Regions from separate parts of the Homo sapiens genome. Here region 2 is linked to region 1. Evidence: fine-mapped expression QTL. Tissue or cell type: whole blood. Region 1 holds a variant in brackets; the other region holds the start of a gene. All regions are shown on one strand. Distances are from middle to middle.

What was found. PIP is the estimated chance that this variant, and not a neighbour inherited with it, causes the effect.
Region 2: it holds the start of BMP2K, and the variant in region 1 is fine-mapped to the expression of BMP2K in whole blood (TOPMed, PIP 0.98).

What each region holds. Positions count from the first base shown.
Region 1 is chr4:79,133,581-79,136,344 of GRCh38, reverse strand. The region is part of intron 3 of LINC01088 (long intergenic non-protein coding RNA 1088); the gene reads right to left. Among named protein-coding and RNA genes, the nearest start is that of LINC01088, 160 kb to the right of the region's middle. The variant C/G (reference allele first, on the strand shown) is at 1,531.
Region 2 is chr4:78,775,332-78,777,963 of GRCh38, reverse strand. It overlaps BMP2K (BMP2 inducible kinase), which reads right to left and starts at 1,614. Exons shown (of 16, transcript NM_198892.2): 1 at 1,243-1,614. The coding sequence starts at 1,420. BMP2K-DT (BMP2K divergent transcript) reads left to right here and starts at 1,994. Exons shown (of 1, transcript NR_186689.1): 1 at 1,994-2,632. RefSeq lists silencers at 710-910, 1,272-1,941, 2,032-2,281 and enhancers at 485-1,115, 1,748-2,378.

The DNA of each region.
Region 1 (2,764 bases):
TGTACAATAACATGGAAGTTAAACAACATGCTCCTGAATGACTTTTGAGTAAATAATTAAATTAAGGCAAAAACAAAAAAAAAATTCTTTGAAACTAATGAAAACAGACACAACATACCAGAATCTTTTGGACACAGCTAAAGCAGTCTTAAGAGAAAAGTTTATAGCACCAAACACCTATATCAAGAAGTTAGAAAGATCTCAAATTAACAACCTAATGGCGCACCTAGTGGAATTAGAAAAACAAAAGCAAACCAACCCCAAAGCTAGCAGAAGAAAAGAAAGAATCAAAATCAGAGCTGAACTGAATGAAATTGATACATGAAAATCCTCATAAAAGATCAACAGAACCTAAAGTTGGTTCTTCAAATGATTAAACAAGACTGATAGACTGCTAGCTAGATTAATAAAGAAAAAAAGGGAAAACCCAAATAAACCCAAACAGGAACAATGAAGGTGACATTACAACTGACCCCAAAGAAATACAAAAAGTCTTTAGAGACTATTATGAATGCCTCTATGCACACAAACTAGAAAACCCAGAAGAAATGGACATATTTTTGGAAACACATGGCTTCCCAAAATTGAACCAGGAAGAAATTAAAGTCCTGCACAAAATAATAGCAAGTTTCAAATGTGAATCTGTAATAAAAACCCTACCAACCAATAAAGGGCCTGTATCAGATGGATTCACAGTCAAATTCTACAAGATGTAAAAGAGCTAGTACCAATCCTACTGAAGTTATTCTTAAAAAAAAAAAGAAAAAAGAAAAAAAAGAAAAGAGGAGGAGGACTTCTCCCTAACTCATTCTATGAAGCCAGAATCATTCTGATACCAAAGACTGGCAGAGACAAAACAAAAAAAAGAAAACTTCAGGGCAATATCCCTGATGAACACAGACACAAAAATCCTCAACAAAATACTAGCAAACTAAATTCAACAGACATCAAAAAGTTAATTCATCATGATCAAGTATGCTTTATTCCAATGCAAGATTGGTTTAACACAAATAAATAATTAGTTTAATGTAAACAAATAAATAAATGAGTTTCACTACATAAACAAAATTTTATTAATAATCACATGATCATCTCAATGGATGCAGGAGAGGCCTCTGATAAAATTCAACATCTCTTCATGTTAAAAACACTCAACAAATTAAGCATTGAAAGAACATACCTCAAAATAATAAGAGGCATATATGACAAACCTGCAGCTAACATCATACTGAACAGGCAAAAGCTGGAAGCAGTCCCCCTGAGAACTGGAACAAAAAAAAATGCCTAATCTCACCACTGTTATTCAATGTAATACTGGAAGGCCTAGCCTGAGCAACCTGGCAAGAGAAGGAAAGAAAAAAGCATCCAGATAGGAAAAGAGGAAGTCAAACTATCTTTCTTCATGAACAATAGGCTTCTTTACCTAGAAAATCCTGAAGACTCTGCCAGAAGGCTTCTAGAACTCATAAATGACTTCAGTAAAGTTTCAAGATATAAATCAATGTACAAAAATTATTACATTTCTATATT[C/G]CAATAACATCCAAGGTCAGAGCCAAATCAAGTACACAATCCTACAAAAAACAGCCACAAAGGATAAAATACCTAGGACTACAGCTTACCAAGGAGGTGAAAGATCTCTACAATGAGAATTGCAAAACACTGCTCAAAGAAATCAGATGACACACAAAAAAATAGAAAAACATTCCATGCTCATAGATAGGAAGAATCAATATTGTTTAAATGGCCATACTGCCCAAAGCAACTGACAGATACAATGCTATTCCTATCAAACTTCCAATATTATTTTTTCACAGAACTAGAAAAATCTATTCTAAAATTCATATGAAATCAAAAAAGAGCCCAAATAGCCAAAGCAATCTAAGCAAGAAGAACAAACCTAAAGGCATCACACTACCCAACTTTAAACTGTACTATGAAGCTACAATAACCAAAATGACAAAAACAGCATGGTACTAATACAAAAAGAGACACATGTACCAATGGAACAGAATAGAGAACCCAGAAATAAAGCCAAATACCTACAACCACCTGATCTTTGACAAAGTTGACAATAGCAAACAATGGGGAAAATACTCCCTATTGTGCTGGGAGTCAATAAATGGTGCTGAGATAACTGATCTGCCATATGCAGAACATTGAAACTAAATCCCTTTCTTTCACTTCAGGCCAATATATCTGACTACTACGGGAAGCCCTGAAAAAAAAAGAGAACACATATTTTAAAATATCAGTCACATTAAAAAGATCTTTCCTATTAAGTCCTTTGAAAGCCTTCAAATGTATTAGAAGAAATCAATGCTACCTCTCAATATTCGACCCTGGGCATGCAAAGAGCATGGTGGTCAGCCAGTTCAGCATACAGACCTGGGTCCTGGCCTTGTAGCTCCAGGTGTGCAAACCTGAAAAACGCTGCTCAGAATTTGCTAGAGGTAAAAGAGACATTTTGATTCTAATATACCTAGCCGACACTGCACTTCAAGATTTCAAGGCCAAGTATCTCAGTTGTGATATTGTGCTACAGTTTTGTAAGATAATATCATTGAGGACTCTGAGTAAAAGGTATAAGGGAATTTCTCTATAATTTCTTACAACTGTATGTGAATCGATAATTACCTCAAAATAAATAGTTTAATTAAAAATGTGAAGTGGTTGAAGCATTCAAGGTTTATTCACCCATTCATTCATTGAATATTTCAGAAATATTTATTGATTATCCATACTATTATAGATGCCAGGGATAGAG
Region 2 (2,632 bases), 360 kb after region 1:
AACTAAGGATCCTCCTTCTCCCACCTCTCCAAGTTTCGGCTAAGATCATTATTCTGAGCAATGGTTCACGAAACAATGATATGTACACTTGAATAATTCACGATTTCTTTCTCTTTCAAATATTTTATACAAAAATCTTCAGGTTTTTTCCCTTGTGCTAATTTACTGTTGTGTATAGCATTTCAAAAAATACAAGCGGAATCTCAGTCTACTGTTTTCAAACCACATCAACGTCTAACGCTCGGAGAACTGAATCCACTCTTCGATTTTTTTTATCTTAACCATAGAACTTAAAAGGGCCATTTATCAACAAAAAGTATTTCTTTTAAAGTGTTTATTTTGTAGTATCATTTTGCAACTAAAAACTCAAAGGCCAATGAAGCATGCAGCACACAGGGCAAGTATTTTCTACAAGGCAATTATGCCAGAAATACAAAACTAAATTCTAAGTTCTTCTTTTAAAATGGAGTAAACTTTTTTTGTAAGTAGACTTCTACCTGCCGTCATAACCTGTTCCAGATCATGAAGGACCGACCACAAAACCTCGTTAAGTGAAAGTTAACCTGCTTTTATATCACCTTTTAAACTACTATCAAAGAGACATACTGGGAGGGCATGAATAGCACCTTGTCCAACAGAGAAGATTCTAAATAACAAAGATAAATGGGCTCCAAGTTTACCTGCTCCTCAGTGCAACCTACTAACTGAATTTAGAGCAAAGGATCACCTCCAACACGCACACATGCACACAAATACATTGTTTTTCAACAGATGACTGAGCTGCAGCAAAGCCCAGCTTGACACCAGGGGCTGCAGGGTCCTATGCCCTGCAGCGCGGGTGGAGGCTTAGATGAAAAGGCCAACGCATGACACCCGTCTGAGCCACAGCTGGCAGAACGGAGCTTCAACCCTGTTCGATCTGACCCTCTAATGAGTCACTGGCCCAATCGTAACACCAACCCACTTCCTAGCCCGTCTACTACCTATTTTCTCGCGTCAAAAAGCACAGAAAATGATTTAAACTAGGCATGAGAGAACTGTGCACCGGCCGGGGCAGCCAGCGGCAAGAAAAGCCAGCTTAAGAGAGAAAGCCCGAGCCACTCTTTAGGAGCCCCCGCTGGCCCGGCAGCAGAGGAAGAATGGGGTATAAGAGTCAGTCCGGAGGGCGAGGACCCGGAGAAGCCGCCGCCACACCCCAACCCTCCCTCACCTGCCTGTCCGAGCCTCCCCGGGCGCCCGTACCTTCGGCCAGCGACTCTTCCAGGGTGACCTGGTGGCGGCCGACCGCGAACACCCGGACCCCCACGGACGAGCCGCCGGAGCCGCAGCCGGCCCCGGCCCCGGCCCCGCCAGCCCCGCCACCCGCCGCTCCGCCGCCGCTGCCGCCCTCCGACTTGGGCATCCGAGAGAACTTCTTCATGGTCCCGCCGGCGAGCTGGAGGGCGCAGGGAGCGTGCAAGGGCAAGTCCCCGGCCCGGCGCGCAGCCGGGCGTCCGCGAGGGGTCGCCGCCCCTGGCCCGTCCGAGCGTGCTGCGGCCCGCCAAGCCTCACATTCCGCGCTCCCCAAGCGCACAGCCTGGGCCCCGCCGCCCGCTCCGCGGCTCCGCTGCAGCTGCCCGGCTCCCGCAGAGGGCGGTGGGGAGGGCGGGGACGGGGCGGGGCGCGAGGGGGCGGGTCCGAATCCAGGGGCGACGCCGCCGCCTCCGCCAGTGCCCCGGGCGTCCCGCCGCCTCACTAAGCGCCTGGAGCGCGAGCCGGGGTAGAGGAAGAGAGCGAAAGAGGCTGGGCGGCCGGCCCCTCCAGGGAGTGGGCTAGACGTCTCAGGCCACAAACCCGCAGGACCGCAGCCCGTCGCGCCGCCGCCGCCCCGGCCGAACCCGCGCCGCCCGCCACTCGTGGCCGTTGGCGGGGGGGGGGGGGGGGCGCTGCTGCCAACCGCTCACTGAGGCCGGGCGACCCGCGCAGGCGCGCTGCCCGCGCCGCCGGAAGTGACGGTTCCGGCTCTTGTCACGTGGAGGGGGACCAAGGGAGGTGATTGTGGGGGTTGGGGACTAGGGCAAAGTCGGGGGTCCCGGGTCCGGGGTTGCGCCGGGAGGGTACTGGCCAGGCCCGACTTCAAGCAGGGAGGTGGCCCGGGACTGGCTCCCGCGCTGGTCACGCACCGGGGTCCGTCATCTCGACCGGGAGTCGCTGTGCCACTCTAGGGGCTTAAAAATGCCGCCAACAACTTTACCCCTGCTGAGGAACTTCTCGCTTCGTTTCTTAGCCAGTTTTCCAGGCCTTCTCCCTTGAGAGTCTCCTTCCGCTCGCCCACCCTGAGCGTAGGAGGTGGGAGCAGGACGGAACTGGAGTGGATTCCAGTAACTGGACTTCTAAACCGGCTCGGTGTCGTCGCGCTCTGTAGCGGACGCTTGTGCTGGGAAGCGTTTTGCAGTTTATAAATTACTTAGGAGTACTTTAAACATCTCACGCCTGCTGTACCACAGCCATGTGGGGGTATTCAGAACAGGTATTAAGGTCGTTTTGCAGACCATTCATCACTCTTGGCTAAAAGAACTTAACGGAGTCGCCCAAGGTCACACAGCTGGCTCGTGGTAATTGGGGACCATTCTTTGATTCATAATTTTGTGCT